Linked DNA regions of Homo sapiens: region 1 is linked to region 2. The links come from fine-mapping of genetic effects on gene expression. Tissue or cell type: testis. Region 2 holds a variant in brackets; the other region holds the start of a gene. All regions are shown on one strand. Distances are between the middles of the regions.

Region 1 (5,387 bases), 620 kb after region 2:
TATATTAATGAATAATCTGTTGTAAAAGAAAACCACTAATTGGAGCCAGATTTATGTTTTTGGCATTGTCTCAATTGCCCTAATATTAACTTCTCTAAAGGTGCATAAAGTATTTAATATTTTGCCTAAAAGTGTAGATCTAACTCCTCCTGAAGTCTGTATCTTGCTGTCAGCCCTCACAATTTGTGTGGTCAGAAGAGCTGTTGGCATGTATGTCATCTCAGCTGCAGTGGCTCCAGGATGCTAGAATTTAAAACCGTACCTTTGAATCACTCACTATACTATTAAATCACTTCTCTTTATTCAACTCTAATCTGACAGGTTCTTGAAATGGTACAGAAATCATAATCACTGATTTTTTTCCTAAGTCATTTTTTAACCAAAAAATTACTCTTACCTTTTGAAAAAAATTACAAATGTATAATCTGTTCATGTCAAGGAAGTGCATTATTTTTCTCACTATTTCTTATATTCCCCACCTCTTGCAAACACACACACTGCAATATATATACACCATACACACATGCACACACACACCCCAAATTTATTGTCTGGATGTAGAAGCTCACTACCCAATTAACACTTTTTTTCCCTTACAAGCTGAAACTAGCAGTAATTTATGGCACCGCATTGTGCTGCTGCTTCTCCATGGGGGGAGCTGAGAGCATTTCTCTTCAGTACAGAGCAATCCCCACAGGTGTCAGCTGAGAGCCACCAAGCTAGGGTATCCCACTTCAAGTTCCTCCCAGATGAAATTGATGACTGGTTCTCTCTCTTTCAACACACACACACACACACACACACACACACACACACAGTGTGGGTGTGCGCACATACACACTGCCCACTAGCAAAAGGAAATAAAAATCTCAGTTGCTTATTTATTATGGCTGATACATTCCACACCATCAGCAATCACCAGTCATATCTTGTCTTCTCCTATATCAAACCCGAGGAAAGAGGCTCGTCAAATCATCTGAAATAGCATATTATTCAGTATACTTTCATATTTTAAGTGGACTCAGGAATCTGCTAAATTTTCAGTCATTTGCAAAATAAATCTGGAATATCATGATCAAGAGTAGTGCTTTGAACCCTTTCTCAAGCTCATGTGTTAGAAAACCTTTTTTTTTTTCTTGTGTGTGTAACTCTGTTGGAGCCAATTATTGTATTAATTAATGTTACATTGATCACATAACCTTTTTTCTCCCGTCCCTCCTGCCCTCCTCCACTAATGCACACCTTGACAATTTTAAGGGATGGTGGAAGAGAGAAAAACCGTAGAGCAATATATATGTACATATAGATATATATACATTCTTATCACAGGGAGGTTAACTGGTTTTCCCAGTTCTTGGAGGAAGCTCATTGTATGTGAGCGAGTATCTGTATTTATATGGAGAAAAGAGGATTCTCTCTAGGTGCCAGAAAGACCTGGCCAGTTCACAAATTAGAGGATGAAATAAAGGGATCTGAAAAACATCCTTACTGCAGCCAAAAGAAGAAGCGCTCTAATTCAAAAGCAGACTAACAGCATCATTAATCTTTTCTTTCATTTCTAGAATCAAATTCATCCCAAGTCACTAGGAGGATCAATACAGTACGCTCATCGGCTGCAGTTGCATATTTTAATGTTTCTGATATCACACACACATACACACCTACACCTTTCCATGCACCCTTCAATATATATATATATCTTCATAAAGAACATGAAATCTCTGAGAGAAATTTTAGAAGTGCTTATTATTTCACCCCTGGCTTTTGCAAAGTCTCTCAATACCAATGCACAGCCAAAATTCTCTCTGGCTTTCCCGCCCAGTCTCTAAGCTCCATCTCTAATACCAGTGCAGTTTCTTGGAGCTCGGGGTCTACTGCACAAATTAACGATGGGCACAGTGTGGGGCTGATGAGGTAGGGAAGGAAATATATGGAGAGATATTTTATTGCTTTGATATCTAGCCTGTCTCTTATTTTCTTTCTTTTGCTAATACATCACTGCATTCAGCCTTTAAGTTACTACCCCAGTTCCACCATCTCTTCTTGCCATCTATTTAAAAGGCTTCATGCAAAACAACCAAGATCTACACTCCTCCACCCTCCCACCACCCATCTTTCCCTGTGTATTTGTGGCAGATCCTGGCTCAGTTACAATGGGGAAAGATATCCTTCTTCAGCTTGCCTCGCCCCATCCCCTCCCCCCAACCCAAATTGAGCTTCTTTACCTGCCCGGTTATTCCCCTCAGCTCGAGCCAGAGCCTGAAGCATGCATCGGTCAAAGCGAATTTCCTGAGGTCTATGGATAAGGCGACTGCTGCTGCCTTTTCAGAGGCGTCAGGCTTGAGCGTCTATCTCCAGGAGTGCGGGAGGGGAGAACAGGCAACGGAGGGGAGCAGGAGGAGGAGGAGGAGGAGAAGGAGGAGGAGGGGGAGGAGAGGGAAAGAGCTGGGAAGGAAAAGGCGGTGGTGGAGCCTGAGAAGGCTGGGTTACGTGACGCCGGGTGCTGTCCTTCTGAAAGAGAAGGGCGGAGCTGAGCTCTCCGCAGTACCATGGAGAGCGGCGGGCCCGTCCTTTGGCTGGGGAATGGGTGGGCTCGGCCCGTGGTCGCAGCCCCTCCAGGTCTGGATGCTGCGGAGCGAGGTGCTTTTACCTTTGCATCGTCCCCTTGCAGGGGGAGCCTGATCCTGGGGGCGGGGACCTTCCGCAAGCGCTTCTAACTTGTCACCACCCTCTCTTCCCCATCGGAAAGAAAGAAAGAGAGAGAGAGAGAGAGAGAGAGAGAGAGAGAGAGAGAGAGAACGAACGAACACGAACCAGAGAACCACGTAGCCTACTGAGCATGCCCAGGCCCCTGCTAGACCCATGGAAAGCTGTATGGAGATTCCACTTCTCCGGGGTTTGGTAGTGATTGGGCGGGGATACCTGAGAGGGTGCCAGGAAAGGGTCCAGCAGTCAAAGAGAAGGGGCCAAGGAGTCGATAATTATGATGAGCTCTGGCTTTACTTGTGCACCTTGGTCTCCTGCTCGGAACCCTTGAAAAGAAGCTGCAGCTTTTCGAGGAATGCAGGGGCAAGCAAGACTCACACAGGCACTGGCATTCTTCTAGATCCGATGTCCCTTGCCCCACCCCTTACTGTGGCTCTGCCTTGGGTAATCACAACAAATCTTCATGACTTGCCTAGGCTGTGCCAAAAAGATGTAAAAGGAACCCACCAGGGTAAGATGCCAACTTGCAGACGACGATCAACTGTGTCTGACAAGGTGCTTTTTACTGCAGCCTGTCGTCATTCTCCAGCCTTCTGTGCTCTGTCTTGAACCAAGTTTTCTACCTGTTTAACTCTTCCCTCCGTCTCCTCCTCCCTTTTGCAGCTGGTAAAACCTGGTGAAAGTAAAACTGGGTGTGAGGCTCTAACCATGCAACTGGGCATGCCCAATAGGCATTGCTGGGTTTGGTGAGAAAGGGGTTAAATCTAAGGGAGCTTACAGATTAGGTGGTAGAGGAGTTCGGGGTCTGTGGCTTTAAATTATGGTTTGCACCCTATGGACATTTAAATTCCTATTCCTGTATATTCCTAGCCTGGGTTAGTTTTGGAGCAGATACAGACATTTTTATTGCAACGCCACAGACCTAATAGTCTGAACCTCAAATACTGTAAGGCAAGACTATTTTTGGCCTCCAGGCCCTATAGAGCAAGAATTTAAGAACTAGATAAATTTGGGAACATCAAAATAATATATATTACAATTACAATATGTATATTCTTCCAAAAAACTAGAACTCATTCCTATGATAAGCCGATTTATACTTTCACTACTTTTGTAAAAGGGTCTAAATAACCTGAAGGCGGGTATCACAGGTTTTAATATGTTTATCGCCCTTAGAGAGGCAGTTTTGTCAAGTGGTTACATGTTTGGGAAATAGATTGTCTGAGCTTCAATTCAATCTCTGCCATTTATTAGTTGTAACCTCAGCAAGATACTTAATCTTATGCTGCCTCAGTCACCTCATCTGTAAAATGGATATAATAATAGCTCCCTCTTCATGTGTTTGATGTTGTGAAGATGAAATGAATAAATAAACATAACATATTTGGAATTGTGGATTCCAAATTGTGGAATTTTGGCTATATTTATCAACTACAACCCACTCTGTGTTCTGTTTGACTCAATGGAAGGAATTTCTCTGAAACTCGAATTCTTTGACTATAAAATAGAGGTATTAGTCATTGTCAGCTTATTCCATAAGATTGCTTTGGGAATGTAATGAAATAATAGCTGTTAACATGATTCTTAAAACAAAAATTTAATTTTAAATGATGTAAAACTAAGACTCAGAAAATTACTTATCTAAATTATTCATTCAGTGAACTTGAAACAAAAAAACAGTCTAGTTAATTCAGGGCCTTTTTCAATTTTTCCTACCATTAGGTTATAGGACAAATAGTACAGAAGGTACACCGCGATGTGTTTAGTATAGAGCTAAAGCTTATTGCAAAAGTAAGTGGAATGGACAGCCCACTTTCAAAAATCAAGTCTAACTTGGTTCCATGATGCTCTTAAGATCTGGTGTGAACATGCATCAGTGAACATTATGGTAGTGCTAGAGGCACTCTTAAGAGTCAAAGCACTGCCTTTTACCTGGATTCATAAAAACTCATTATTTACCACCAGTGCATGTGATCTGAACAATTTCCTACTTTATTTCATTTCGTCTTTGTGAATTTTTATTTTATCTTTAATTGGGCTACACAGTGTTTCCACTGAATCAAGGTTTTCCTTGAGATGTCTTCTGTGGTGTTTTGATTTAAAAAAAATGTTGACATTCTTATGCTGCATGTGTGAATTTTCAGATTAAAAAGACCAGTGTTCCCACATCTCTTCACCACTGCCTCCCTGACACACACACACAAACTATATAAACTGAAGGAATAGATGATGTATTGGAGTAATCCCCTTTGCAATCAGGTTTAAGGTACTTACTGTATGTAGTCCAAGGAAGTGGACAGCCCCAGGATCTTTTTTTTTTCAGTAAATATGCATAGAGAAAAGTATCAGTTTGTAGCTTAGAATGCAAATATCACAACATAATTTAATGATAAAAGTTGTTAATTTATTTTAAAGTATGAGTTTTTCTGTTGTTTCTCCATAAATTACTTCAACTCTCTAAGTGGCAGTTTTGTCATCAGTAAAATAAAGATAATGGCATCTCCATTTATATGACTTGGTGGAGATAATGTCAACATTGAATGTTAATTTTGTGCCTACTCCTCGCCAAACAGTGCTCCAAGTGCTTTACTTACATTAACTTATTCTAACCTCACAGCAACTCTAAGAGGTAGGTTCTAGGATTTCACTCATTTTACCAATGAGAAAAAGTGAAGCATAGA
Region 2 (5,387 bases):
CTTAAAAGAAAAATTTAATGTATATACTATAACCATTTAAAAAGGAGAGTGTTTTGAGGTTGTATAACCTTTAAAAGTACATTTTGAATTTCTATATTAATTTTAAAGTGCATCAATTTTGTCATATGAACGTTCGTAATACCAAATATATCAATAAACTGTAAAAATTGAGAAGGGAGACTATGTTGAACTTAAGAAAATTTCATTTGAAACCTATTAATTTCAGAAACAAACCATACATATATAACAGAAATAATTTACAATTAAAATTTTTACTGAAGCTCTTTCAATGGACACCCTTCATCTTTCCCATTACTCTCTTGTCACTTCATAACTATGACATGGATCAGGCACATTAAACATAGTTCTACATGAAGGAGTAAAGACAATGACAAAAACTGTGGAATGGTACATAGGAAGGACTTCATAGAAGCAGGGAGTAGGCAATGAGTTTTAGTGCTTTTAAAATTGAAAAAAGAAGATAATCATTACTAACTGAAGGTCTTTCTATAAAATAAAAATAACAAGGTAGTTCACATTAAATACATTAAATTACAGTTAAAGTTATTTTTAACTCCACAGATTAATGCACTTTCCCTTTCACAGAACTCATTTTCTATTAACTTTAGCAACCAGACACCAGAGGTTGCAGTGTAAGGTGTATTTTTTTATGGCTCAAATATAATTTAATCATTGTATTTTCTCTTCACTAGATTGACAAAGTGCACTATGAATTGGTGGAAATGCGCTGTCTCATCATGTGATGATCAGAAGCTGTGATAAAGATATCATTTGCTCCAACATTTCTAGCACACGCTGCATAGAGTCTGCAAATGTTCTGATGAAGCATGGATAATGATTTGAATTTACACTTCAGATCCACAGCATATTAGGCTATGGTCTCACTGGAGGCATGTGAAATATTAGCCATAGAGATGTCTTAACCACCATTTACATTTGTTTTAACATAAAATCAGCTAGGGTATAAAAATGCACAAGTCTCTCTAACTGTAAATAACCACACATCATCATAAATATTGAGTCCAGGACCAATACCTTATCACTCGTAGTTACATCTTTTTGCATTAATTCAAGAAGATCTTGTGACATAGTCTCTCACAATGTGATATGCTAAATTACATTAAAAAAAAACAGAAAAAAATAGACAAACTCTGTAGAGGCTTGTAGTTTCATCACTGTGAATCACTTTCAAATTCTATATTCCTATTTTTATGGCCAACTGTTAGTAGTTATTCAACAACATACAAAAAAAAAAAAAAAAAAGCTTGGACTAGTACCATTGATTTGTTCATTCAAAAAGAATTTGTTTAGTACCTCCTATATGGTAGCCCTATCCTAGCCACTGGGAATACCATGGTGAGCAATACAGTCAACAGTTCCTTCCCTCAAAGAGCTTATACTTCAGTGGAGACAGATGGGCAATAAACAGAATAACTAAGCTATATAATAAGATCAATTGTATTCTGTACTATGGGGGAAAACAGAGCAATAAAGAGAGAGAATTGGAAGTGGTGGAAGTGATTGTAAATGTTAATAGGGTAAGAAAGGCCTCACTGAGCAAATAAAATATACCAAGAAAGGAGACAGGAGGAAGGCAGGAAAGTAAAAGGTTGGGAGAACAAAATGCGCAAAGAAAGCTGAGAAACACTAATGTGACTGCTGGCCTCTGTACCTACCTTAAGCTTTGTGTTCCCTCTACCAGTCCCAGGTGACCTCCCCAAATATCCCTTTGGTCTTATGCTCTATTTCACTCACCATAAAATTAATAATTTCTATTTCCTTCTATTTTAGGAGACATATGAAAATAATATATTATACATTTTCACTATTGTATTAGTCTGTTCTCACACTCCTATAAAGAAATGCCCAAGACTGGGTAATTTATAAAGGAAGAGGTTTAATTGACTCACAGATCTGCATGGCTGGGAAGGCCTCAGGAAATTTATAATCAGGCAGAAGGGGAAGCAAACATGTCCTTCTTCACATGATGGCAGGAAGGAGAAGTCCCAAGCAAAGAGGGAAAAGCCCCTTATAAAACCATCAGATCGTGTGAGAACTCACTCACTATCAGTGGCATGGGGGTTACCACCCCCATTATTCAATTACCTCCCACCAGGTCCCTTCCACGACCCTTGAGGATTACAAGAACTACAATTAAAGATGAGATTTCGGTGGGGACACAGCCAAACCATGTAAACTATTGTTTAGGATATGTGTATACCTTTTTCAGAAAGTTATATTTTGCATTAGTGCAGTAAATGAAACTGCAATATTTACACAGATTCATTTTGAAATCTTAATCAAAAAACAGTAACGGTTTCCTTTTTACAGTTACATAAAAAATGAAGAAGGGACCCACCCATTAAACCTACCTTGAATGAGGAAAGAGATTGAGACTGAATTTCATTTCTGCCTCCAGTCATGTTTTATAAAAGCGGTCAAACCAGTTTTCCTTACAAGCAGATGTCCAGTTGTATCTGTATCTGCCTGCCTCCTCAACCCATCCTCCACAAGATTGAGAAAAGGAAGACAGTGTGCTCTTGATCTGGATACACATTTCAAGCCAAAGTTTTATAAAGAGGAAGTTCAATTCAATGTAG[A/C]AATATCTGAATGCTGTGTACTATTTTATTGGGTACAGAATAAAAGGGGCAGCAGAGTAACTTTTTGACTTCTCACTGCATCTTTTGTTTTCCTAAAGCTTCTGCTTCACTACGAATGAAGAAGACTAAAATTTCTCTGAAGAGAAGGAAGCCATCCATGATTTTTGACAATGTTAAAACCCTGATATTCTGCTTGGTCCTAGGTATTCTGCTGTATCCCTGACATTCTGCTTGGTAGTAGGGATTTGCACTGTGCTTGGTCCAGAAGACAAATTCCAAGCTCCTACAGAGTCTGATGGCTTTACAAATAACCTAGCTATCACAATTCTAAATAAGTGTGAAAACCCTGTTAAAGCACATAGGAAGGGGACATAACTTGTTTGGTGGGGAGGGAGAAGGCAAGGCTTTCTTGAGGCAGTAACATTTGAATTGAGGCCTGGAAAAAGAGTAAAAATTAAAGAAACAAAGAAGAAATGTACTGAAAAAGCAACAAAGTCCAAAAGAACGCACATCCAAGAAACCGAAAAGTGCAGGATCACAAAGAGAAGTATAAAATGTAAAGAAGGAATAAGGGATAGATGGGGCTGCACAGATAAGAAGGCTAAAATATCACATGTGGATTAAGAAGGACCATCCTGAAGGCAAGGTGGAGGAACGGAGTACTGAGAAGTTTTAAGCAGAAAAATAAAATGACCAAATGTGCATTTTAGAAAGATTACTAGTTCTTCCAGAGGTCTAACCGAGAGGTCACCATGATGATGACCTGAACCAGGGTAGAAGCTGGAGGAAAAATAAAATCAAAAGGATTTTATTTCCTTTGTACTTGAGAGTTATTTAGGAGATGAAACAAGTGACCGATGGAATGTAGGGAGGGGTTTCCTTCTTGGTTCACTGAGCACGTGCCTCTTCTTATATCTCTAAAGCAAGCAGGAATCTCCACTGAGTCCTGAACAGGCTCAAAAAGTTTCACCAAGAATGAATGTGCAACTATCCCAACAAGTTTCACCAAGTATAAATGTGGTTCAGACTCATTCCTCAACACATGGTGTACCCTCCTTGCAGCCTCCCCCAACACACACAGCTGTTTTATTTTAGATGCTGCAAATCATAAATGTGTATTACAGATCTAACAATTGTAAAATCTCCAAATAAAGTTATTTCTTTGAGTGACTGGAACGGAGAAAGGGAGCGGTGCTTTGTATTTGGCAGGAACTTAGATTAGTGTCTTTTCAGAAAGCCCAGTACATTTTGATTAGCTCAATCATCATTCAACAATTATTCTCTCTCTGATTTTAAAATTTTCATTAAAAGCAAATTTTTAAAAAGGCATACCCTTGTACAGGAGAACTCCCTTGGTATTGAGCAAATTCATCCAGGGATCAAGGGAAATACAAAATATTTTCACACCATTATCAATGTTTATGCTGTAGCAGAGGAATCAGTCTCAAACACAGGCAAAATATGCATATATTTTTAAATACCTTAGATGCTATAGTAATAAAAATATTAAAATATATATGGCAAATCCATTAATCTACTCTGAGTATGTCTATTAACATGTTTAAAGGCATAAGTGGTTTATCATATTTTTATCATATTTAAGTTACAAAAATCTTTTTTATTTTAAGCTTTTTATCATTTAAATCATATTTTTATTGTAGTTAAGTTACAAAAATCTTTGACTCTCCTTTGAATATTTTCAAATCAATTCCATAAGTGAAGACAAAATACACAATTGAGGAAGGGGCCATGATTTGCCCCAAAATTGTCATCAAATGAATGAACTCAATGACTTCTGAATCACACTTTTAAATCAGATGTTCCCATTTGATCTGTCAATTTCTCCAGGTTTGATACATAGGTGTAAAATCATCACACTCTTAAGGCAATGAACTGCAGGCTTAAATAAATAGTATATCTGAAAGAGATTAAGGCAATCGTATCTTTCAGAAGAATCATATCTTTCAGAAGACATACTTGGTAATGAGTTTTGGACTGCAAGTATCAGTTCTTAGACACAGCATGTGACAGTTTGGTTGCTTGGCTAAAGTTTCACAGCGAATAATTCATCTCTGCATCAGCTGGACCCTGACCTGCAATCTCATTAGATTCATTCTAGCCCAATATTAAAAGTATTTCTTGCTAATAATGCAAATGCCATTATCATCCAAGTAATAACTAGTGTCTGGTAGTATACTGATGAAATTTTGGGTATTCTTTTGCATTTTTGTCCAATTTTCATTATTTCTCAGTGGGAAAGAAAAAAGAAAGGAAGGGAGGCAATAAGGAAGAAAATGAGAAGGAAGGAAAAAAGAAACGGAGATAAAGAAAGTAGGCAGGTGGGTGTATCTTACAAATTTGCATACATACAATAGTTTGAGTAAATTGGAAATACTTAAACTTTATCCTTTGTAATGTAAAAACATTAAAACAAAAATTCTCCACCATGAAAACAGAAAATATATATTTGTATCTCCTCCCATTATATGCTTTTATGAGAGATGGTTAGTGAATTTTACACTTAAATAGACACACTTCTTTTTGAAACCTCAGTTTTACTTGGTACCAATAACACTGAAATAATCCTCCACTGTATCCCAGCTAATGCTTCTGCATCCCACCAAATACATCTGAATGCATGGCTAAAACAGAACACGTGATCTGGCCAGCCTTACACGTGTAATGAAAATCTAAATTAAAGAGAATGAGACAGCAGAGATAAAGAGGATTTGGGGAAGGAATAAAAGAGACTAAACATAGCACTGA

Alleles and levels. Alleles are on the strand shown, and positions count from the first base shown. SD is a standard deviation of normalised expression in the study named.
For the expression in testis of the gene that starts at base 2,377 in region 1, C is the high allele of the variant in region 2 and A is the other (moderate effect, 0.53 SD a copy in GTEx).

The links.
Region 1: it holds the start of NRXN1, and the variant in region 2 is fine-mapped to the expression of NRXN1 in testis (GTEx, PIP above 0.99).

The regions. Positions count from the first base shown.
Region 1 is chr2:51,029,756-51,035,142 of GRCh38, forward strand. It overlaps NRXN1 (neurexin 1), which reads right to left and starts at 2,377. Exons shown (of 23, transcript NM_001330078.2): 1 at 2,226-2,377. NRXN1-DT (NRXN1 divergent transcript) reads left to right here and starts at 2,846. Exons shown (of 11, transcript NR_135237.1): 1 at 2,846-3,261.
Region 2 is chr2:50,414,690-50,420,076 of GRCh38, forward strand. The region is part of intron 17 of NRXN1 (neurexin 1); the gene reads right to left. Among named protein-coding and RNA genes, the nearest start is that of MIR8485, 280 kb to the right of the region's middle. The variant A/C (reference allele first, on the strand shown) is at 2,622.